Homo sapiens: one gene and its partners. The protein of the gene in region 1 interacts with the protein of each later gene in a pairwise test. Each region holds a gene or a part of one and is shown in the gene's direction. Other genes may lie near its edges. The genes, in order: YWHAH, PRKCI, MARK2, MARK3, CDK14, MARK4 and CSNK1E.

Region 1 (3,500 bases):
AACCTGTTGAGAACTTCTCTTCCCTGCTTCTCTCCATAATTTGAAGAAGCAAGAAATGTTTCTGAAGTGAAGCATAAAGGAGTATCTTCAAGCTCTATCTCATACCTACCAGCTTGCATAGAGTATAATAGTGGGAAGAAATATTGTGAAAGATTCTAGAACCTAAGTCCTTTCTAGGCTAGGCAATTCTAGGCTACACAATTCGTAGTCTCTGTAAATACCATTTGATAACTGAAATAAACCTATAAAGTGGGATTAAATGTTAGTCCAGAAGACTAAGTGATTTAAGGAAAGAGGGAAAATAACCAGATAGATTTCTGGTGGATATTCATAGACAGACATAATTTCATCATGTATTATGGCCCTAAGTCATCTATTTTATATTAAAACATAGATGGTAACTGTAAAGTTATCAAATGTAAAAATTACTGGGCTAGCATTGTGTTTTAACACTGATACACCAGTTGATTACAGTGTTGACAGAAAACGGGCAGAAACACGTTTAAAGTACCTGCAGAATATATATATAGAAATCTTTTTTTTTTAATCAGTGTTGACCAGGTTGGCCTCGAACGTGTAGCCTCACCTCCCCGAGTGCCAGGGCAACCGGCCTGAGCCACAGCGGCTCCCTAGAAATCTTAAGTGCAGGAAACAAAACTACAGTTTAAGGAAACAGGAGTCGGAGAGGAGGGGCATTTGGCCCAACCACTGGCAAAAGGCTGTTGTTGCAACAACTGTGAGATTCTGGGAAGTGGGGAAATGAGCAGGTGCTGTGTAAAAGTGCACAGCTGACTGCCCCAGGTGAGACAGATCAGTGTCACAGAGAGTAGGAGGATTTTGAGGTGTGATTAGTATTTTTTTTTTTTTTCTTAAAGAGATGGTCTCGTTCTGGAACCCAGGCTGGAGTGCAGTCGTGGCACGATCATAATTCACTGTAGCCTTGAGCTCCTGGGCTCAAGTGAACCTCCTGAGCAGCTGGGACTACAGATGCATGCCACCGTGCCCAGCTAATTATTAAATTGTATAGACAGGATCTCTATATGGTACCCAAGTTGGTCTCAAACTCCTGGCCTCAAGCAGTCCTCCTGCCTCAGCCTATTAAAGTGCTGGGATTACAGGAGTGAGCTACCACACCCAACCAGTAGGAAATCTTAAAGCCACATTGATACTACAGTTTGAAATATGTAAAAACTAGGGAGCTATGTTTCCCACTAACTGGGCATTTAAAATGTAATCGTCTTTGAGGAAGGAAGAAGGCTCTGGATTATTCTTGTAATAGTTTGAATTTAAAAGGTCCTTTCAGGTGGGCAAACAGCTTACGTGGCTTTCTTGCACTGAAATAGAAACTGTAGTCCCCATGTGGGTTTGGGTCCCTGAATTATCCCCAGAAGAACTTCCACAGTCCGGAACTGACTCCCTTAAAGAAACCAAAAATGTATTTTCTTTGGTGGGGATTTTCTTTAGTTGGTCTTTGTCTGGGATTTTATATCAGTGACAGACTGTAGCGTCACACTTTTCCAGAAATACGGTTTCGGAGAGGGTACCCCTAACGTTTTATGTGTGTGTGTGTTACATTTAGCAAGTTTATATAACATATTTTACTTTTTTTTTTTTTTTTTTTTTTGAGACAGTTTCGCTCTTGTTGCCCAGGCTGGAGTACAATGGAGCAATCTCGGCTCTCTGCAACCTCTGCCTCCCGGGTTCAAGCAATTCTCCTGCCTCAGCCTCCCAAGTAGCTGGGATTACAGGCATGCACCACCATGCCATGCCCGCCTAATTTTGTATTTTTAGTAGAGATGGGGTTTCTCCATGTTGGTCAGGCTGGTCTTGAACACCCGACCTCAGGTTATCCACCTGCCTCGGCCTCCCAAAGTACTGGGATTACAGGCGTGAGCCACTGCGCTTGGTTAGAACTTATTTAACTTTTTAGGCACTTGGTAAACGGTAGCTGTTAGTCCATGTGTACTTTTTTTTTTGGTGGGGGGGGGAGTCATGCTCTGTCACCCAGGCTGGAGTGCAGTGGCAGGATCTTGGTTCACTGCAAGCTCCGCCTCCTGGGTTCACGCCATTCTCCTGTGTCAGCCTCCCAAGTAGCTGGGACTACAGGTGCCCGCCACCTTCCATGTGTACATTCTTGTTTAACAATTCAGGATAGGTACTGTTACTCCCCTTTACAAATGAGACTTTCAGAGGTTGATTTTCTCATGGTCAAACAGCTAGTAAGTTGTGAATTCAAGATTCAAACTCAAATTTAGAGCTCTCATTTTAACCACTATGTAACAATGCCCCATGAGGCAAAGGGATAATATGTCTAGTATACATTCTGGTATATTAACCATTGTCAGCACTGGTGACTGAAATCCAAGAACTCTTCATAAGTGGGCTTACTAAACAAATAATTTTATCTGTTGGGTGCAAGTCATTTTTTTTTTCCAAATACGATTAAGAACAATCTGCCATTTATGGGTTTTAGCTACAACAGAGAAACATAAGAGGGAAACTCACATATCTGGATTTTGCTTGTTCTGAAGGCTTGGAGGCCTTTTTTTTTTTTTTTTTTTTTTTTTTTTTTTTTTTTTTGCTTAACAAAGTATTGAATTTGAGTTTCTCCTGAGTTAAGAAGTGCAGGACTATGTTACATTTTATTTGGGGTATTTTAAGAAATTATTTCATATTCTTGGCACCAGTTGTTTCTCCATATTGCCTTTAATGTATTTTTCTCCCTGCACCCTTTAGTATATTTTTATGCAGGCCCCAAAATTTCTGTCTCTAGGTTGCTGGTAAAATTCCTCCTAGTGTCCAAGTGGAGGCAGCTTGTCTTCTGTCCCAGCATTTTGGTGCTCCTCCCGCCCCTACTCCTGGCTGCAGTGGCATTCCCTTCTGCGGTGGTGAGTGTTAGCACTTCCAATGATCCGAACCTGGCACAGCTTCTGAAGCCTTCAATTCGGATGCCTCTAGGGACAGTAGCATGCAGTAATGCCATTCAGATGGTGTTGTATTTAATCCTTGCCAATCCCCATGAAAATGTTCAGTTATGTCAAAAGCAAGGCAAAAACAGTCTCTTGGCTATACAAGGGTAGCTGTTTTATTTGACTAAAATTTAGCTTAGAGTGGATGTTACTTACCCGAACTTGCCTGCTCTGAGCTTGAAGTTTAGCCTATTTGTGGTCTTACAGAATTGCAGCCTCATCCTGGTGAGGATAAGGGGCTCAGCCTGACCCTGGCTGGTGATGTTCTTGCCCAGTGGCCTGTAGGACTTGGTCTGTTGGTGGATATCTTTCCAGCTTGGGGCAGGCCAGGCAAGATCCTCACTTCCTAAGCATTAACTTGGGAAAGAGCTCAGCAAGCTTTCATCCCTCTAGCTCATTTTTTGTTTTTTTGAGACAGAGTCTTGCTCTGTCGCCCAAGCTGGAGTGCAGTGGCACAGTCCTGGCTCACTGCAACTTCCACCTCCTGGGTTCGAGCGATTGTCATGTCCCACCCAAGTAGCTGGGATTACA
Region 2 (3,500 bases), on another chromosome or scaffold:
AGAGGAGAACTGTAGAGGTGGAGTTTTTCTAAGAATACAGACTTGAGCTGTCATCCAGTATGTCTTTTCAGATGGAGCAAAAACAGGTGGTACCTCCCTTTAAACCAAATATTTCTGGGGAATTTGGTTTGGACAACTTTGATTCTCAGTTTACTAATGAACCTGTCCAGCTCACTCCAGATGACGAGTAAGTAATTCTGTACACTGAAATTTTTTTTTAAGTTCTTTGGAAATCCCATTTTTAGTGACTATGCAATGTTTCATTATCAGATTATACTATAATTTTTTTATTTTCTATTTTATTTCATTTTATTTTATTTTGAGATGGAGTCTCGCTCTGTTGCCCAGGCTGGAGTGCAGTGGTGCAATCTCGGCTCACTGCAACCTCTGCCTCCCAGGTTCAAATGATTCTCCTGCCTCAGATACCCTGAGTAGCTGGTACTACAGGCGCGTGCCGCCACGCCCAGCTAATTTTTGTATTTTTAGTAAGGACAGAGTTTGCCATGTTGGCCAGGCTGATCTTGAACTCCAGACCTCAGGTGATCCACCCACCTTGGCCTCTTAAAGTGCTGGGATTACAGGCGTGAGCCACTGTGCCCGGCCTATACTATAATTTATACAACCATTCAGTTACTGGTATTTGTATCTACTGTACCATTATAAGTTTTAATAGTAACTGTCATTTTCTCCTTTGCTTTATAGTGCATTATCTTATTTTCACAACAACTTTGTAATCTAGTTACTGTCATCTTCGTTTTACAGATGAGGAAACCAAGGCTCAGAGAGGTTAAGCAAAGTTACACAGCTATCAGGTGGCAGAGTCAGGATTCAAACCCAAATCTGACTGACTAAGGCCTGTGCTCTTTCTACCACGCTGCACTGTTTCCCATTTGACAAGGACTGTCTTTGAGTTCCTGAGTATTGCCTTAAGATAGATTCCTAGAAAGAGAATTAGGTCAGAGGGTATTAACATTTTAAAGCTCTTGTATTGCCAAATTGCTTTTTTTAAGAAATTACATTGAGTTATTAAATCCAGCCATCAGTGATCTGGTATATTTTTTGTGCTTATACTTCATCTTTTAAACATGTAGTTTGGAATAATTGGGAGATATTTTGATTATTTACCTGTTGTTACAGATTCATTCTCTCTAATCTCAGGGAGGCCCTTATTGTTTGGCAGTCATTTCACTTCTATCTCATTTCTTACCACATTTCTCCCAGCACCTGCTCCAAACAGTCTCTTCATTTCAGAAGCCTTCAGTTCTACTCCTTTTTCCATCACTGTTAATGGATTAACCTTGTCTTAATTTGATGCAAGGACTGATAACCTCTCTGACGTGACCTTGCCTCCTTTGCAGCTGTCCCCAGACCACCTTGCATCTCAGAATTGCTTTCTAACTCTTTTCATCATTTTCTTATTCCCTACTCTTGGAAGACTCTCCTTTACAAGGGGTGTCCCTGCTATTTTCCTAGACCTGTTTCCTTAGTTTTCTCCAAGATTTCATTTTGTCAGTTATCTTTTTATTAGACCTTCTTTATTTTTTTCTAGCTTGTTTCCCTCTGTGTAAGCATGCTCAGATACTCTGATTTTTCCCCCTAACTCATGGCCCCTCTTTGAACAACCACGTTTTTCCTCATTTTCATTTCATCTTAAAGCCTCAAAAAAAAAAAAGTTAATAGATGTTCATGGTCAAAGAAAAATAAATACACAGCACCTCTAATCAAACTTCTTCAGACTAGTCAACATTGATTGTCTTGAATTTTTTTTTTTTTTTTTTTTACTGTCAACACTTCAACCCCTTACAATCGAACCTGTCCTCCAGCTTTTGAAGGTTGAATCAATTTCTTAATTTCTAAATTGTAAAGCATTTTGGGGTCAGTCCTCCTCTCCCTTGATTAATGTAAAGCATTTGGTACTCATGGCTTTGCCTTGGGTAGCACTGCCTATTCTGGTTCTGTTTCATCTCTGTGACTACTTTCCTCTCATGTGTTTTCCCTGTCCCCTTGAGACCAGGATGCTCCATGGTTCTGTTCATGACAGCCTTCTTTTTGCTATATGCAGTTTGTACCTTGGAGATTTCAGCCAGCCCTGTAGCATAGATACCAGCTAATTAAATGGCTCTCAGTTAAATGGCAAATGGTTATTGAGCAAAAGGTGTTATGGTAAATACTAGACATTCAAAGACAATCAAGACAGTCTGATCTCCCCAAAAGCGTGCTGTCTACTAGAGGAGAAAGATGTGTACCAAGTCATTATTTCTGACAGCATTGTGTATTAGAAGGAACACTGGATTTAATCAAAAGATAGGAGTTTGAATCCCGATGCCACCTCTTACCAACTGGGTAACCTTGGATAGGAATTGCATAACTTCTCTGAGCCTGTTCTCAAATTGCCTACCTCATAAGGTTGCTGTGAAGAATAAATGCATGATGGTTTCTGAAGCACTTATCCCCTGCCGTTAGATCTCCTGAGCTGCATTTCTGTTTAACACGGCCCCCAGTTTGTCAGCCAAGCAGCTCAAATATATGAAGTCTAAAATGAAAGTAATGACCCTTTATGATCTCTTTCTATTGTTCTCAATCAGTTCCTTTTTTTTTAGTTACCTAATTCTGCTCACGGTGTGTCCCTGTTGTTCAGATTCCAGATGTCAGTGATTGTGGACTCCTCCTTTTTCTTAACAGATTACATAATACCTGCAGCTGCCAAGTCTTTGTCTGTGTTTTCATTATTTCATCATTTACATCAGATCTTTCTTTTCTCTTCCCGTTGACACACCCTAGTTCAGGCCTCATTCAAGTCATACCCAGAGTATTGTATCAGCCTCCTAATTGATCTTTACTCCTTCACTTTGCAACCTATTCTGTATGCCTTGTGAAGTACCACTCCAATTCTTGAACCCCTTTAATTAGAAACCTTCAGTAACTCCTTCATTGCCTATCAGGTAACATCTATCCTCTTGGCTAGCATTTAAGGCCTCCCCACATCTGCTCCAGCCTGACTTTCTAGCGATACCTCTCACCATAATACAAACAGTGTTCTGATCAGTCTTAGCTACTCACCATTCCCTAGTAGTATTATTGTCTCTGCTTCTGCCTGTTCATTCCTGTGTATCCCGCCTTCATTTTTACCTATTGAAATTTTCCCATCTTTCAGAGCCACCTCAGATGCAACCAGATCTTTGATGGATCAAGGTGAAACTCCTTAGTGTAAACATCACTGGCCTCTTTGATTTAGCCATTATTTTTCTTCAGCATCATCTAACACACTTCTATTCCTGTGCTCCACCCTAATTACTTGCATTTCCCAAGACCTACCACAGTCTTTCATCATTCCATTCATTAAGTGTTTGCAGAATGAATACTGCCTTCCTTGATTTCTCCAACTAGAAGTCACACCTTTCTTTAGAACCATGGTTAGAACAGGACTTAGCTTATTGTGTATAAAATTTAACAAGTACTGCTTTCTCTTCCAGTAGGAATTACCTCCCTTCCTTGAAGGA
Region 3 (3,206 bases), on another chromosome or scaffold:
TGGAGCCAGCACTGGCCCTGCCCGGGCCACCGGGCTTGCCACAGCCTCCTGCTCCTCTCTTCCTTCTGCCACTTGGCTCTTCCTCCCGTGGTTCTGCCCTGTCCCTACCCTCTGGGGCCTCCCTTTCCTCAGAGAGTTTCCCCTTCCCAAACCCAATTGCAGGAGTTACGGGCCCTTCTCCTCAGGTCTGGTATATTCTGGAAGTCGGAGTTCTGGGTCGGGTGGTTGGGGCTACAGATTCCTACCCCTGGACTATCCCACCTCCCTGTGCTCGGAGGCTTCTTTCTGGAGAGAGAGTCTGTGCTCGTGCTGTTGAGGGCACTGGTGTCTTCCCTGACCCCACCCCGCCTACCCCAAGGCTGGCTTCTCCTCCCCTTCGCTGTCCTGAGAGATGGGGGTTGGAGGACTGCCACCCTCCGCCCCCGCAGGCCAGGGGCCACGCCTGGCTGCTCCTGCTCCCTCCCGCTCTCCTCTCTGGGCTCAGGGGCTGTCTGCCAGGGTGGCTCTCCTGGGGTGGGGTGCCTCAGCCCCCCCGTGACGCCCGCCTCTGCCCTCTCCACAGACCTCACGTGGTGGGCAGTGGCGGCAACGACAAAGAAAAGGAAGAATTTCGGGAGGCCAAGCCCCGCTCCCTCCGCTTCACGTGGAGTATGAAGACCACGAGCTCCATGGAGCCCAACGAGATGATGCGGGAGATCCGCAAGGTGCTGGACGCGAACAGCTGCCAGAGCGAGCTGCATGAGAAGTACATGCTGCTGTGCATGCACGGCACGCCGGGCCACGAGGACTTCGTGCAGTGGGAGATGGAGGTGTGCAAACTGCCGCGGCTCTCTCTCAACGGGGTTCGATTTAAGCGGATATCGGGCACCTCCATGGCCTTCAAAAACATTGCCTCCAAAATAGCCAACGAGCTGAAGCTTTAACAGGCTGCCAGGAGCGGGGGCGGCGGGGGCGGGCCAGCTGGACGGGCTGCCGGCCGCTGCGCCGCCCCACCTGGGCGAGACTGCAGCGATGGATTGGTGTGTCTCCCCTGCTGGCACTTCTCCCCTCCCTGGCCCTTCTCAGTTTTCTCTTACATGTTTGTGGGGGGTGGGAGATTGTTCTCCAGCACCCCACATTCACCCCTGCCCAGAGATTCCCCCTTCTCCTCTCCCCTACTGGAGGCAAAGGAAGGGGAGGGTGGATGGGGGGGCAGGGCTCCCCCTCGGTACTGCGGTTGCACAGAGTATTTCGCCTAAACCAAGAAATTTTTTATTACCAAAAAGAAAAAAGAAAAAAAAAATCCCAGCGGCCACCTTTCCTCCCTGCCCCATTGGGACAGTCGAGACTGGATCTGTGGGGTTTCCCGGGAGGGTGGCTCAGGGCTGGAACACTCTCAGGCAAGAGTGGTGGAGCTCCCGTCAGGCCCTCCGCCAGGCCCACTGTGGGCTTCTCCCCTCTCCTCCCTCCTTCCCCTCCAAGCAAACCACCAGAGGTGGCCTTCCCCTGACCTCAGGCCCCTGGGCTGGAGGCCTGGGCGGTGGGGCAGGGGGCGGGGGTGCTGCGCAGCCCTGCAGTGGGTGGGGCTGGGGGCTGCTCCGGGGCTGCTGAGGCTGGAGGGCCGGCACAAGGCTCCGCCTCCCTCCACACTGTACCCTCTGCCCCTCCTCCCCAGAGCTGGGCATTTCCTTCCACAAGCTGCTGTGGGGACGTGTGTTCCCTCAAAGTCTGTGCCATCTTCTCCCACCCCTCCCGGGTAGAAGGAGGGGCTGACCCCAGGGCTGGGAGAGGGGAGGGGACTGGAGGGCAGACTGGCTTCTCGGTCCCCAGGGGGCCGCTTGGGCTGTTGGTCTCCAGAGCAGGGCCACTGGGCACTCTGTGATGGGGGAGCCTTTGTCTGAAAGCACAGCCCCCTCGCCCTTCCTCTCCCCATGGCTTCCCCTTCATTGGCATTAATCTGGGCACCAGCTCTCTCCATAGCAGTGACTTCCCTCACCACTCTCATCTCTCAGCCTTGCCTTTTCTTCCTGACACTGTCGCCCCCTCCTCTCAGGAGACACTGCCGAGGGCCACCTGGCAGAAGGCTGAGTTAGGCAGCAGGGCCGGGAGCGTCTGCCCTCCACAGGGTGGGGGACAGATAGGCTAAGCGACTCCCAGCTTGCTACCCTCAGTGGCCAGTGTGGGCGTGGGCGGTTTGGGGCGCTTGGCTGGTGGTGGCCACTGCATCCCTTAATTTATTTCTCTGCTGTTTCTGTTCTTGAGAAATTGGGGGTGGGAGTCCTACACAGAGGCTGCCCCTACCCTCACCTGAGTTGTACATTTTTTTGTGATGGGTTTTATTTTTTATTATTTTATTTTATTTTTTTTTTTTTTGATTTATGATGACTCCACCCCTCTTCATCACCCCCGCTCCCAGGCCAGGCTCAGCGATTAAGCCGAGCCCTTGCGTCCTAGGAAGGGGCCTTGCCAACCTCAGCCCTCCTGCCCCACACTCCTACTGCGGCTCAGACCAAGGGCTCCCCCTCCCTCCCTTCCCCCCTCCTGCCCTATGGAACAGCCCGGGTGCTCTGAGGGGGCTGGGAGGGCATGGCTTGGCTCCCAAAGGGGGTAGGGGCCCGGGGCACCCAGGCAAGGTGGCCCCTCCCCGTCTAGCCCCCTCCTCCCCAACCCTGCACTTAGTTTCTCCTCTGGATCAAACACGTAATAAAGAGAATGTTTGGAATCTGAGCTGCCTCCTCCTGTTTCTTCTCCCAGCCAGGCAGGGACCCAGTCTCCTGTGGGCAAGATGTGGCCTAGCCCACCTGCCTTGCAGGAGAGACTTGATTCCTGTCTGGGGCCAGTGCTGGGTGGGCCCAGCTCCCCACTTACCCACAGGGCACAGACAGGAAGCAAAGCCCAGGGCCCTTGCACCAAAAGGGAAAGAAAACTCAGTAAGCTTAGATTTTATTTTTTTTAATTTTTAAAAAATGTTGAAAAATAAATCCATGTCTGCATAAGTTCCCAACCCCCATTTCTCCAAGTTTCTGGAAGGTGGGCTTGGTGGGCACCCTCAGCTCCTTAGCATTTCCCAGCTGGCCCCTGAAGACAGAGCTTCTCTTCCAGCCTCTGCTGCTGTAAGGCCCCTCTGCCCACCTCCCCCCCTGCAGCCTCCCTCCCCACCTCACCCCAGACTTATTGCTAAAAGAAGGGAAAGAGGAATGAGAACAGCCAGCACACCCAACTGCCCT
Region 4 (3,500 bases), on another chromosome or scaffold:
TTTCTCTAGAAAGAATGTTTTCACATTAATTAGGAGGTAACTTCATATCATTACAGAAAGCTTTTCTAAAATGCCTAATCCTGTCATAATTCTAATTCTATTTTGGCTAAATTTCATTTTTGTCTTGATGTTTTCCCTCTAGGCTGAAAATCTATTGTTAGATGCCGATATGAACATTAAAATAGCAGATTTCGGTTTTAGCAATGAATTTACTGTTGGCGGTAAACTCGACACGTTTTGTGGCAGTCCTCCATACGCAGCACCTGAGCTCTTCCAGGGCAAGAAATATGACGGGCCAGAAGTGGATGTGTGGAGTCTGGGGGTCATTTTATACACACTAGTCAGTGGCTCACTTCCCTTTGATGGGCAAAACCTAAAGGTATAAGAAGCTGCACCCATGTACTTCACTAAACTAAAAGAAGTTTCCTAATATTACATGGCTTAATATTTTTAACATTATATCAGTGCGGGGGGTTTCAGGGGGTTTTTTGTTGTGTTTTGTTAACTAAACCTAAAGGTTGACTTACTCGTTTTCTTTCCTCTGTACCTCTCCAAAGGAACTGAGAGAGAGAGTATTAAGAGGGAAATACAGAATTCCCTTCTACATGTCTACAGACTGTGAAAACCTTCTCAAACGTTTCCTGGTGCTAAATCCAATTAAACGCGGCACTCTAGAGGTAATCATGTAGGTGGAAACAAGCAGTAACTTTGGAGAGTCTTTAGAGTGACCTTAGATCTTTGCTTGATTTGTATGCCATACTGGATATATCCTGCGGCTTTTTAAGCAAGAATTGAAACATTAAAAAATATTTTTTGAGTTTATGCTTTGAACGATAGTCAATGAAATGTTGAAAATAAATTTTTGTAAATATTACGGTTATCAGAATATTTCATTTTACTCTGCTAATGAACAGTTTACCTTTTTTAGCAAATCATGAAGGACAGGTGGATCAATGCAGGGCATGAAGAAGATGAACTCAAACCATTTGTTGAACCAGAGCTAGACATCTCAGACCAAAAAAGAATAGGTAATCACTCCATGCCTGCATGTTCATGTGTTTTTGTCTAAGTAACATATTTCTGTTTTGACTCATGTCTGTGCCTAAAATGTGAATAATGGAAAGTTAAGCACAAGTCATATGAACAGTTTATCTGTTCTGTCATATTTAGGAACGTAACTACCTGCAGTTTCCTATAATGGCACCCAGTAACTCTGAAACAAGTGCCCATTTATGTTACAAAATATATGTAATATGTCATCTTTTAGGTCAAATGAAAATTATTTTACCCTACAAAAGAATGATTTCTGGCCGGGCGTGGTGGCTCACGCCTGTAATCCCAGCACTTTGGGAGGCCAAGGCGGGCAGATCACCTGAGGTCGGGAGGTCGAGGCCAGCCTGACCAACATGGAGAAACCCCATCTCTACTAAAACTACAAAATTAGCCAGGCACGGTGGCTCATGCCTGTAATCCCAGCTACTCGGGAGGCTGAGGCAGGAGAATTGCTTGAATCTGGGAGGTGGAGGTTGCGGTGAGCCAAGATCGCGCCATTGCACTCCAGCCTGGGCAACAAGAGTGAAACTCCGTCTCAAAAAAAAAAAAAAAAAAAAGGATGATTTCTTACCCAAACAAAACACATAAACTGTATTATGCCCTTCTTTTAGATATTATGGTGGGAATGGGATATTCACAAGAAGAAATTCAAGAATCTCTTAGTAAGATGAAATACGATGAAATCACAGCTACATATTTGTTATTGGGGAGAAAATCTTCAGAGGTAAGAGTAATCAGAAAGAGCTGAAATACCCTGTATGTAATTATTAGTTTATATAAACTGTTTTCTTAGTTTTTATCTTTTGAATATTTGTAACATTTGATACATCATTTTTTAGATTTACTTGCAAATAGCAAATCTAAATCCTATGACTATTATAAGCTATTTTAACTTAACCCTTAATGATGGATATTGGCCAGGCGTGGTGGCTCATGCCTGTAATCCCAGCACTTTGGGAGGCCAAGGCGGACAGATCACTTGAGACCAGGAGTTCGAGACCAGACTGGCCAACATAGGGAAACTCTGTCTCTGCTAAAACAAACAAACAAACAAAAAATTAGCTGGGCGTGTTGGCGCTTGCCTGTAATCCCTGCTCCTTGGGAGGCTGAGGCAAGAGAACTGCTTGACCCTGAGAGGCAGAGGTTGCGGTGAGCCAGGATCACGCCACTGCACTCCAGCCTGGGTGACAGAGCGAGACTCTGTCTCAAAAAAAAAAAAAAAAAAAAAAAGATGGATGTTGTCATAAACCTGGTCTTTCATAAATTAACCTGTAGTCATTAATAGCTTAGAAATGACGTAAAGCATCAGATGAAGTAAATACAACATTTAAAGTTATTTGAGAAAGCCTGGAAAGAAAATCATAAATACCTTACCTTTAGTGTCTTTCCAGCCGTCAGAAAACTACTTTTGCTTGAGTTTAGGGTTGTCATTTTTGTACGTTGTGATTCCTCCTCTCTCTGAATGAACGGTTTATGAGAGGTCTGTGTTAATGAAAAGTTTAACTTCCTAATAAGCCATTTGGGTTCGTGTTGTGGTTTGCTCTGTTTTTCTCATTTTCTCTTAGCTGGATGCTAGTGATTCCAGTTCTAGCAGCAATCTTTCACTTGCTAAGGTTAGGCCGAGCAGTGATCTCAACAACAGTACTGGCCAGTCTCCTCACCACAAAGTGCAGAGAAGTGTTTCTTCAAGCCAAAAGCAAAGACGCTACAGTGACCATGGTAAGTTTTGGAGTATCCCAGTGCCTTCTCTTAGAGTCCAGGCAAGAGGTCTCCTAGCACTGGGAAGCATTCTCTTGCTCAGAGCCTGGCTTGATGTCCTTTCTTGGCATTGCTTTCTTTCTTTCTTCTTTTTTTTTTTTTTTTTTTTTTTTTTTTGAGACAGAGTCTCACTCTGTTGCCCAGGCTGGAGTGGAGTGGCACAATTTTGGCTCACTGCAACCTCCACCTCCCAGGTTCAAGCGATTCTCCTGCCTCAGCCTCCTGAATAGCTGGGACTACAGGTGTGTACCACCATGCCTGGCTAAGTTTTGTATTTTTAGTAGAGACGGGGTTTCACCACATTTGGCCAGGCTGGTCTTCAGCTCCTGGCCTTAAGTGATCCACCTGCCTTGGCCTCCCAGAGCGCTGGAATTACAGGCATGAGCCACCGTGCCTGGCCAGCATTTTTTCTTAGTGTTCCTGCAGGTGCTGCCATGATTACATATTACTTCAAGGCTCTTATCTTCTTTATACATGCAGTAGATTTTTGCTGGATAAAGCTTAGTTGAGTGGAAACCTTACCATTTGCCCTTCTAGAACCTCTGCTTTAATCTGTAGTTTTCCTTTTTTTTTTTTTTTTTAAATGGAGATGGGGGTCTCGCTATGTTGCCCAAGCTGGTCTCAAACTCCCAAGTTCAAACTATTCTCTCACCACAGCGTTCTAAAGTGCTAGGATTACAGACGTGAGC
Region 5 (3,500 bases), on another chromosome or scaffold:
CCATGCTCATACACTCACAAATATCTATATCTATGCATCTGTGTCTGTATTTATATCTGTATCTGTCTATATCTATCCATATACATAGCCGCATTTATACCCCACATGGAGTCATTCTATACATATTAGCTCTGTGTATCTGTGGGTTCTGTATGCACATACTCAACCAACCACGGACCCAAAGTGTGTATTCAAAAACTTCGTATTTTTACCTTAACAGTGTGGGCTTTTCATAAATATCTTCGGTTTTTCTGCTTTTGATAGCATATAGGGATGTGGGAACTTTTTATAAGAAGAAAAGCATTCTAAAAACAATTTTATTTAGAGTTATATTTTCTTTAGAGAGAACAATTAAATTAGTTAGCTTTACAGACAAGCCAGAGGCCATCAAATTATTGAATAAAGACAACAAAGTCTCCAGAGTATCGGGAGAATGACAGGCTTAGAACTAAAGTAAAAAGCAAGGAGCAAAAATCACAGAGACTGAAATAAAATGAGAGGGTGGGGAAGGCTGGGTGAGAAGAGAATGGGTGAAGAAGGAAGAAGAAGGGAAGGAGGTGGAGGTCTAGTGGAATAATGTAAACCAAATTTTGAAATGAATGCTTTTTGGTGTTTTTCTTTTACAATGTTATTTCTTTTTATCCATTAGCTTTGAAATAAAGGAAACCCCCACCATTGTCCTCAGTTCTTCAGTATCTCTAACCATTAGCTCCATTCATTCCAATTTGGAGATGAAATCAAGATGGGGACAGATTTTAAGCATACATATTCATGCATAAAACTTTTAAACAACATAATGCCCTTTCCTTCTCTAGCCTAGGTTAGCTGCTTACACGATGACCCATCAGTTAATGTCCATCTGATTTGCCTATTTTTTGTTTTTTAAATTAAGGCTAGTTACCCAACCTCTTAATGATTCAGAAATAAACCACTTCCAGTCAGATGGTAAAACGTGTGACAGAGTTCAAGAATCATGTTAGGGTACTACTAGCAGCCTGGGCCTTAAGTTTCTCATTTTAGAGGTAGATTTTTTAGTGTAAGCTCTAGTGTGAGATCTAAGTGTAAACACAATGATTGTGAGGATTTTTTTGTACTGTAATTTATGCTGATGCAGCTTTTAGAATGTGGGCTTTTTGGGTATTTCCTGAAACTGAAATTGGCATGCTTTCTAGAGTTATATATTGGCATGTTTAGTGATATTAAAGTTGCAGTGAAGAGTTCTGAATTTAATTTCTTCTTTTCTCAGATATGTGTCACAAAGATGTCTACACGGAACTGCCAGGGAATGGACTCAGTGATCAAACCCCTGGACACAATTCCTGAGGATAAAAAAGTCAGAGTTCAGAGGACACAGAGCACTTTTGACCCATTTGAGAAACCAGCTAATCAAGTAAAGAGGGTGCATTCTGAGAACAATGCTTGCATTAACTTTAAGACCTCCTCCACTGGCAAAGAGTCACCTAAAGTTAGGCGGCACTCCAGCCCCAGCTCGGTAAGTGCAGTCTTTTTGTTTATCACTGGGTAAACAGAAGGAATAGCCTTCTTATGATAGCATGCGGTGCTGGAAGACAGCAGGAAACTTTATCAGTGCCTTATTATGCATTCTCTCCCAGGGTGGTTGAATGTTTTGGAAGAGAGAGAGCAAACTATATATGGACTCCTTATTTATAAGCACTAAGCAAGCAAATGAATGAAATGATTCAACTTATTTTTGGAAAAATCATTTTTCCCCCTTAATTGTTTCTAGTTAGAGGAATTTATAATTAAAAGTCTTTTGTATTTCAAACCCTTGGAGAGGTTATTGAACTTTACTGTGTAGGCAGTAAGGATAGTTTTGAAATTAGCAAATTCACAAGGAATTTCATTGCAGAATAAATATCAAAATTTGTTCACTTGCGTTAATCCAGTTTTTTTTGGGGGGGTACTCCACCAGTCTTTCTCATGTGACTCTGTAAAGTGACAAGTTGAAGTTCTTTTCCAGGACAAAGCCCTGTACTGAATGGAAAATGCTGGAGTAGAAATCTGTGTAGGGTAGATTCAGTAGGACCAAAGGAAAGAAGAGAATGTCCAGAAAGAAGTGTTAGAGGGAAACAGACTTTAGATATAACTAGTGATTTACAAGTTAGAAAGGAACACACCAAGAGAGAATATTCTCTGTTATATTTCTATTCTCAAATACATTTTTTCCTACTTTTTGGCTTAAATTAATATACATTATTTACAATTGTATGATAATGTAAATTTTGGTCAGGGAAACCACAAGTATGCTATGAATAAATTTCCTTCCTTGCACAACTTCTTCATTTTCTTAGTTGTCATTGTCTACTTTTCCTTCATTCAAATTAAGATAATTTTAAACACAATTTGAGGCCTGCAACTATATGACAAAACTGTAAAATGCCTCCAAAACAAATCAGATAATCTATCAGTTTTTCTCCCCCACTGAGATTGCCCTGGCAGTTCTTCATAGTCCTAATTTAATATAGATTGGTTAACCTCTAATCCTATAGTCATAAGGCGTCCTTTTCTGAGAATTTTTTCCTCCTTTTTTAATGTTAAATACCCATTCTCTGGGTTACATGTCTTTCTTGTTCTTGGTTTATTTCATTGTTTTAAAGTACATCCTCGCAGTAGCTTCTTGAGAAAGGGTGATGGGGGGTTTGTCATATGACTATGATTTTATCTGTCGTTGATTACTTGATTAATAATCTGGCCAAGTATGTGATTTTAGTTTAGAAAATAATTTTTTCTTAGACTTTTGAATACCTTGTTTTATTGTTTTCTAGGTGCCTAGATTGTATTGAAATCCCTAGACTATTCTGGTTTCCCAGTTCATCCTTTATCTGCTTTTTTGTTTGTGGAACTTTCTAGGACTTTCTTTTCATCCCTGGTGTCATCCTTTTTCTTGGTATCAATGGGTGTTTTCAATTTTTGAGTTAATTTCTTTCAGTTTCAAAAATTTTCTTATATGTTTATTTAATTTTTTGTAATCTTCTCTTTTACGATAACATTTTTATTAGTTGGATGTTGGCATTATTGGATTGATCTTCTAGTTACCTTTTCTTTTCCCTATTATTTTAAATCTTTTTTTTCCTACCTTCTGGGTTTTTTTAACTTTTAATTTTTAACCCTTCAATTGGATTTTTAATTATACTAATATTTATTTCCATGAACTCTTTCTTATTCTTTGAATGCTCTTTTAAAAAGTATCCTGTTCTATTTCAATGAATAACATATCACTTCATATGTTTCTGAGGATACAAAATGTAGCTTGGGGAATTTTTTTTCCTTTTACATATTCTCTGAATTATTTCTGGATTTCCTTTGAGTTTCTTGTTTCTGTTTATTTGTTTTGGTCTCTGCCTTACCTGTTGAGATTTTTGGTGGGTCTATGTCATGCCTCTTGGAGAGAAACTGTTGGCTGTCAGTTTATGTTATGAGTAATGTACTCAGAAGTTGATTGGAAGCTCTGTGCCTGGGTGGCTTGTCAGTTGGTTGGC
Region 6 (3,500 bases), on another chromosome or scaffold:
GCTCCACCTCCTGGGTTCATGCCATTCTCCTGCCTCAGCCTCCCAAGTAGCTGGGACTACAGGCGCATACTGCCACGCCTGGCTAATTTTTTGTATTTTTAGTAGAGATGGGGTTTCACCTTGTTAGCCAGGATGGTCTCAATCTCCTGACCTCGTGATCTGCCCGCCTCGGCCTCCCAAAGTGCTGGAATTACAGGTGTGAGCCACCATGCCTGGCCTTTTTTTTTTTTTTTTAGACCAAGTCTCACTCTATCACTCTGGCTAGAGTGCAGTAGAGCGATCTCGGCTCACTACAACCTCTGCCTCCCAGGTTCAAGTGATTCTCCTGCCTCAGCCTCCAGAGTAGCTGGGATTACAGGCGTGTGCCAATGCCTGGCTAATTTTTGTATTTTTTTAGTAGAGATGGGGTTTTCACCATATTGGCCAGGCTGGTCTCGAACTCCTGACCTCATGATCCACCCACCTCAGCCTCCCAAAGTGCTGGGATTACAGGCCTGAGCCACTGCACCTGGCCACCTGGCCCATAATTTTTATATGCACTGGGAATCCAAAAGATTCATGTGCATTGCTTTTTTGCAGTATTTGCTTTATTGCGGTGGTCTGGAACCAAACTTGCGATATCTCTGAGGTATGTGTGTAATTAGAAAAGGAGGTTGGGGCTGGATGCGGTGGCTCACATCTGTAATCCGTACAGCCGAGGCAGGTGGATCACCTGAGTCAGGGGTTTGAGACCAGCTTAGTCAACATGGTGAAACCCCGTCTCTACTAAAAATACAGAAATTAGCCAGGCATGATGGTGCACGCCTGTAATCCCAGCTGCTCGGGAGGCTGAGGCAGGAAAATGGCTTGAACCCGGGAGGCAGAGGTTGCAGTGAGCTGAGATCGTGCCACTGCACTCCAGCCTGGGTGACAGAGGAAGACTCCATCCGAAGGAAAAAAAAAAAGACAAGGAGGTTGGGGGTAGTCAGACTGCAGTGAGGGTTGAAGAAGGGGTGTGATGCCTGGGGCCCTGAATGTTGCAGATTTGGAGGACATGGGGGCTTTTGTTCCTGGAGGCGTCTTTTTGTAGAGAAAGATGAAGGATGCTTGGCTCTCTGGGGCCTGAGTTTGAAAAGGGCCACGGAGGGGCCGGTAGCCAGGCCTCAAGTTAAGTGCACTAGCCCACGGGTTCCACGGAAGGTGGGATTGGATAGCTCATGCTCCATCTCCCCCGCCCAGCATGGCACCTTGGGCAGTGGCCGCTCCTCGGACAAAGGCCCGTCCTGGTCCAGCCGCTCACTGGGTGCCCGTTGCCGGAACTCCATCGCCTCCTGTCCCGAGGAGCAGCCCCACGTGGGCAACTACCGCCTGCTGAGGACCATTGGGAAGGGCAACTTTGCCAAAGTCAAGCTGGCTCGGCACATCCTCACTGGTCGGGAGGTGAGTATGGGCACAGGGTGGGGCTCGGGGCAGGTCCCTGTGGGACCAGGTCTTCGGTGTATGTTGATAGAGGTCAGGATTGGCCCTGGGTTTGCTTTGTGGCCTCAGGTAAGTTCCCGACTCTCTATGGGACAGGTCACAATATCTCTGATGTTCCCAGAACCACCCCCATGGGAAAAGAGAACTAATTTCATGTATCCCTGAAATTGCCGGGAAATCTCAGATCACAGGCAGTCCAATGTGTGCGTTGCTAAGGATGCATGTGGCTTTTGTAGATAAACCTGAGCTGTGGCCGGATGCATTGGCTCACACGTGTAATCCCAGCACTTTGAAAGGCCAAGGCAGGAGGATTCCTTGAGCTCAGGAGTTTGAGACCAGCCTGGGCAACATAGCAACACTTTGTCTCCACTAAAAAATAAGTAAAATTTTTTAAAAATTAGCTGGGTGCGGTGGTGTGTGCCTGTGGTCCCAGCTACTTGGGAGGCTGAGGCGGGAGGATCGCTTGAGCTCAGGAGTTTGAGGCTGCGGTGAGGTGTGACCTCACCACTGCACTCCAGCCTGGGTAACAGAGTGAGACCCTATCTCAAAAAATAAAAATAAAATAAAATAAAAGAGGGCTGGGCATGGTGGCTTACGCCTGTAATCCCAGTACTTTGGGAAGCTGAGGCAGGTGGATTGCTTGAGGTCAGGAGTTCGAGACCAGCCTGACCAACATGATGAAACCCTGTCTCTATTAAAAATACAAAAATTAGCTGGGCGTGGTGGCACATGCCTATAATCTCAGCTGCTCAGTAGGCTGAGCCAGGAGAATCGCTTGAACCCAGGAGGCGGAGGTTTCAGTGAGCCGAGATCATGCCACTGCACTCCAGCCTGGGTGACAGAGTGAGACTCTGTCTCAAAAAAATAAAAAAATTAAAAGGCCGTGCGCGGTGGCTCACTCCTATAGTCCCAGCACTTTGGGAGGCCAAGGCAAGTGGATCACCTGAGGTCAGGAGTTCAAGACCAGCCTGGCCAACATGGTAAAACCCCGTCTCTACTAAAAATATAAAGATTAGCTTGGTGTGATAGCAGGCACCTGTAATTTCAGCTACTTGGGAGGCTGAGGCAGGAGAATTGCTTGAGCCCAGGAGGCAGAGGTTGCAATGAGCCAAGATGGTGCCACTGTATTCCGCCTGGGCAACAAGACCGAGACTTTGTCTCAAAAAAAAAAAAAAAAAATTGGCCGAGTGCAGTGGCTCATACCAACAAACACAGCGCTTTGGGAGGCCGAGGCAGGTGGATCACCTGAGGTCAGGAGTTCGAGACCAGCCTGGCCAACATGGCAAAACCCCATCTTTACTGAAAAAAAAATACAAAAATTAGCTGGGTGTGGTGGTGCGTGCCTGTAAGCCCAGCTACCTGGAAGGCTGAGGCAGGAGAATCACTGGAACCCAGGAGGCGAAGGCCGCAGTGAGCCGAGATTGTGCCACTGCACTCCAGCCTGGGTGACAGAGCAAGACCATCTCAAAAAATAAATAAATAAATAAATAAATAGTAAATAAATTAAAAATAAAAAATAAATAAACCTGAGCTGCCTCTCTGTTTTAAGGGTGGACTTTGGTTCCTTGAAATCTTCCTGTGATCTGGAGAACACAGCAGGTTTATTTATGTTGTATTCTCAGTTACACACAGCCTCACTCTCCCCACCACCTCTTCCAGAGCAGGCATCTGTGCTGAGTATGGTGACATTATTGCAAAAAGGGCCCACACAGGCTTTGCAGCCTAGATATGAGGTCTCTAACTCACTTAGAGGAAAAGGAATGGTGGGTGATTTCATGATTTCCCCACCCCTCCTTCAACTTCAGAGAAATGATTGGAATGAATTATCCTGCCTTGGATGGACTCTCCCCTGCCCTCACGCTGTCTACACCATACACGCAAAAGACACCGGGCCCCGATGGTCTTACAGGCAAATCCTACCAGATGTTCACATTTTATGCCAGTTCTTCCAGAGACTAAAGAAAGAACTGCCACTGCCTGACTGATTTTTACGCGCTAGTTTGTCCTTAAGAGCAAAACCAGACAAGAAACAAAATTACAGG
Region 7 (3,500 bases), 6.4 Mb from region 1:
GACGGGGAGGTGCAGGCAGGACCTCTGACCTATGCTGGAGGCCAGCAGAGCCGGGGTTGATCTCAAGGCCGCCATTTACAGGTCAGGTGACCTTGAGCTGGGTCTCTAGCTGGGTCTCTGTTTTCTCATCTCTACAAGGGGGTTGAGAATCGAATGAGACACTGGATTAGAATGTGCAGGGCTGCCTCTGAAGGCATCAGCATTGACTGAGGGGTTGCTGCGGCTGTCCCATCCTCATCCTGTAGGCCAGGGTGGTCCTGGCTTGTTCTGGTGTGTTCGGCAGCCCAGCCCCATTGGGCCTCTTCTGCACGTGCCACCATCTCAACCCGACAGACCTCACTGCCTGAATTTGCTCTAGGACTCAGCCCCCTCCCTTAGGTGGTCTGTGAGCCTTTTGCATACCTGACCCTTGCCCCACTCACATCGGGCCTTCTTGTCGCCCCAACCTGTGGCCCTGGGTAGCCCTTGTGTGTCACCTCTGTCCCTCACAGCGCTGACCTTCTTTCCCCTCAGGAACCCTTTGCCGGGGCTCCTTTGCCCCCTTCCCAGCCTCCCCCAAGAGCTCCTCAAGGGCAGATGGCCCCGGGCCCGGCACACGCCAGATCTCAGAAATGCTTAGTGGGGCGCCTGGGACTGCCTGGCCTTTGAGGGTGACCCTGGTCCCTTGCCTCCCTGCCCCGGGCAGGTGCCAACATCGCCTCTGGTGAGGAAGTCGCCATCAAGCTGGAGTGTGTGAAGACAAAGCACCCCCAGCTGCACATCGAGAGCAAGTTCTACAAGATGATGCAGGGTGGCGGTGAGCGCAGGGTGGGCGGCGGCGGGCGCCGGGTGGGTGGCGGTGGGCAGCCATGAGCACAGGGTGGGCCGGGCGTGGCTGGCTGCCTGCCTCTGACCCCTGACAGAGGCCCTCTGCTTGACCCCCAGTGGGGATCCCGTCCATCAAGTGGTGCGGAGCTGAGGGCGACTACAACGTGATGGTCATGGAGCTGCTGGGGCCTAGCCTCGAGGACCTGTTCAACTTCTGTTCCCGCAAATTCAGCCTCAAGACGGTGCTGCTCTTGGCCGACCAGATGGTGAGTCCCCGTCCCCTCCATCCCCAGCCAGATGCCTGTGGGCCCAGGATACCAGCCCTGCCTCCTGCCCCCAGAGGATGCCAGAGGATGGGCCTGGGCCAGGGGACCTTGTCCACTGGCTATAGAATTGTAGGTGTTTATTTATTTTTTGAGGCGGAGTCTCACTCTGTCGCCCAGGCTGGAGCGCAGTGGTGCGATCTCAGCTCGTTGCAACATCCGCCTCCCAGGTTCACGCGATTCTCCTGCCTCAGCCTCATGAGTAGCTGGGATTACAGGCACCTGCCACCACGCTGGGCTAATTTTTGTATTTTTAGTAGAGACAGAGTTTTACCAAGTGATCCGCCCATCTTAGCCTCTCAAAGTGCTGGGATTACAGGCGTGAGCCACCGTGCCCAGCCAAGTTGTTTATTTAAAATGTGATTTCAGGCCCAACTCCAGACCTGCCGAGTCAGGGCCTGGGACTCTGCCTGGGGTAGTTTTATTTATTTATTTCAAAAATATCATTTAATTGTAAGAAATAGAGATGGGGGTCTCACTGTGTTGACCAGGCTGGTCTCAAACTCCTGGCCTTGAGCAGTCTTCCCATCTTGGCCTCCCAAGATGGGAATTAACACGGGATCACAGGCATGATCCACCACGTCTGGCCTGCCCTGGGTAATGTAAAGCCTGCGGTCGGTCACACAGACCTGGTCCTGTTCCAGACCAGTGACCGTAGGTGAACGCCGAACCTCTCTGAGCCTCAGTGGCCTCATGTGAGAGTCTCTCCTTTGTTGGTTGTTGAGGGGATTAGGTGAGATACCATTCAGCGCCTTGCCAAAACAGGCCCCTCTAACAGGCTGTTGTTAAGTACTAAGCCCTTCATCAGCATAGGGAGGAAAGCTTCTTAAAAATACAAAACTGTAGAATTTTGAACTTGGAATGGAATGTGGAGATCTCGTACAGGGGTTTTAATCTTGGTCTGCAAAAGCCCTGCGATGTAGGCTGAAGGTGTGTGAGCAGAGGGTCGCCAGAGCCCCTCATGGTGTGAAACTCAAGAAAGGTGCAGGAGATGTTGAGCTGTGCTGAACCTGGGGCCAGAGCCAGAGGCCACGGCATGTGGATGGATATTAGTTTGAGTTTTAAAAACTCGACTGAAAAGGTGGCTCAAGTCTGTAATCCCAGCACTTTGGGAGGCCGAGGCAGGCGGATCTCCTGAGATCGGGAGTTTGAGACCAGTCTGACCATCATGGTGAAACGCCATCTCTGCTAAAAATACAAAAAATTAGCCAGGTGTGGTGGCGCGTGCCTATAGTCCCAGCTATTCGGGAGGCTGAGGCAGGAAAATCACTTGAACCCTGAAGGCAGAAGTTGCAGTGAGCCGAGATTTTGCCACTGCACTCCAGCCTGGGCAACAGACCGAGACTCCATCTCAAAAAAAAAAATATCAAAGGAAAGAGGGCCATGTGCCTGTCTGAGTTTGGCATCCTTCGGAAGCCCTGTCTTTTGTGTTCTGCCTCTGTCACCTCTTCCTGGTCTAGGCTTCCCCCATGTTCCCTGCCTGCCCCTCGCCCACATCTGTTGCCTCTCTGGCTCCCTAAGTCCTGTGAGTGTGGGGCCGGGCAGGCAAGCCTTCCATGGGGAACCAGTTGCCTTTCTAGCAGACTCTTCATTTCTGGATCTTCCCATTAGCTTTCCTGCAATACTCTCTTTCTCTGTCTCACAGCCAACTTGGTGAACTCCCCCTTTAGAGTTCATCCTGATGTCACATTTTCCAGGAGGCCTTCTCTGGCCTGCCCCTTAGTTATCCTTCATGGTCGAAGGCAGGCCTTTCTCCCTCTGCCTTTCCACCTCTGTGGCCCCAGCCCCTGCCTGGCCCAGAGTGCTAGGCAAGGGCCCCTCTGTTGAACAAATGGCCCCCCTCCTCCCCAGATCAGCCGCATCGAGTATATCCACTCCAAGAACTTCATCCACCGGGACGTCAAGCCCGACAACTTCCTCATGGGGCTGGGGAAGAAGGGCAACCTGGTCTACATCATCGACTTCGGCCTGGCCAAGAAGTACCGGGACGCCCGCACCCACCAGCACATTCCCTACCGGGAAAACAAGAACCTGACCGGCACGGCCCGCTACGCTTCCATCAACACGCACCTGGGCATTGGTGAGGGAGCCAGGCCTGGAGCAGTGTGCACCCGGGGCCACTGGCTGGGGCCCAGCTCTCTGGAGCCCTCTCACCCCCTACCCTGATGGAGGCCCCCAGGCTCTTTTCTAGTGAGAAAGTCCCCACCCCGTCTGCCCCCAAGCTCGTGCTTATTCCGTGTCCTTGCACAGTCGGGTCTTCCCCTTCGTAAGCCAAGCTGTGTGTGCCGGGCGCCTTCCCTGGCCCTGCTTCCTCCTCCGCCCTGTTGGTGCAGGCTGGAAGATACAGGCTCAGAGGTTTAACATGGGTTG

The links.
Region 2: the proteins of YWHAH (region 1) and PRKCI interact in binary tests that used the Homo sapiens proteins (3 or more experiments, as listed by UniProt).
Region 3: the proteins of YWHAH (region 1) and MARK2 interact in binary tests that used the Homo sapiens proteins (3 or more experiments, as listed by UniProt).
Region 4: the proteins of YWHAH (region 1) and MARK3 interact in binary tests that used the Homo sapiens proteins (3 or more experiments, as listed by UniProt).
Region 5: the proteins of YWHAH (region 1) and CDK14 interact in binary tests that used the Homo sapiens proteins (3 or more experiments, as listed by UniProt).
Region 6: the proteins of YWHAH (region 1) and MARK4 interact in binary tests that used the Homo sapiens proteins (3 or more experiments, as listed by UniProt).
Region 7: the proteins of YWHAH (region 1) and CSNK1E interact in binary tests that used the Homo sapiens proteins (3 or more experiments, as listed by UniProt).

Annotation. Positions count from the first base shown.
Region 1 is NC_000022.11:31,947,535-31,951,034, forward strand, and holds part of YWHAH (14-3-3 protein eta), read left to right. Parts: exon of another isoform or gene 1-1,618; intron 1,619-3,500. UniProt on the Homo sapiens protein: Adapter protein implicated in the regulation of a large spectrum of both general and specialized signaling pathways. Binds to a large number of partners, usually by recognition of a phosphoserine or phosphothreonine motif.
Region 2 is NC_000003.12:170,298,924-170,302,423, forward strand, and holds part of PRKCI (protein kinase C iota type), read left to right. Parts: intron 1-71; coding exon 72-187; intron 188-3,500.
Region 3 is NC_000011.10:63,908,315-63,911,520, forward strand, and holds the end of MARK2 (serine/threonine-protein kinase MARK2), read left to right. Parts: intron 1-562; coding exon 563-923; 3' UTR 924-2,706; downstream 2,707-3,206. UniProt on the Homo sapiens protein: Serine/threonine-protein kinase. Involved in cell polarity and microtubule dynamics regulation. Phosphorylates CRTC2/TORC2, DCX, HDAC7, KIF13B, MAP2, MAP4 and RAB11FIP2. Phosphorylates the microtubule-associated protein MAPT/TAU.
Region 4 is NC_000014.9:103,465,415-103,468,914, forward strand, and holds part of MARK3 (MAP/microtubule affinity-regulating kinase 3), read left to right. Parts: intron 1-142; coding exon 143-379; intron 380-557; coding exon 558-677; intron 678-928; coding exon 929-1,028; intron 1,029-1,664; coding exon 1,665-1,777; intron 1,778-2,618; coding exon 2,619-2,772; intron 2,773-3,500. UniProt on the Homo sapiens protein: Serine/threonine-protein kinase. Involved in the specific phosphorylation of microtubule-associated proteins for MAP2 and MAP4. Phosphorylates the microtubule-associated protein MAPT/TAU. Phosphorylates CDC25C on 'Ser-216'.
Region 5 is NC_000007.14:90,725,321-90,728,820, forward strand, and holds part of CDK14 (cyclin-dependent kinase 14), read left to right. Parts: intron 1-1,246; coding exon 1,247-1,492; intron 1,493-3,500. UniProt on the Homo sapiens protein: Serine/threonine-protein kinase involved in the control of the eukaryotic cell cycle, whose activity is controlled by an associated cyclin.
Region 6 is NC_000019.10:45,257,771-45,261,270, forward strand, and holds part of MARK4 (MAP/microtubule affinity-regulating kinase 4), read left to right. Parts: intron 1-1,218; coding exon 1,219-1,419; intron 1,420-3,500. UniProt on the Homo sapiens protein: Serine/threonine-protein kinase. Phosphorylates the microtubule-associated protein MAPT/TAU. Also phosphorylates the microtubule-associated proteins MAP2 and MAP4.
Region 7 is NC_000022.11:38,300,434-38,303,933, reverse strand, and holds part of CSNK1E (casein kinase I), read left to right. Parts: intron 1-685; coding exon 686-796; intron 797-924; coding exon 925-1,073; intron 1,074-2,981; coding exon 2,982-3,210; intron 3,211-3,500. Other genes in the region: TPTEP2-CSNK1E (casein kinase I), read left to right, coding at 686-796, 925-1,073, 2,982-3,210.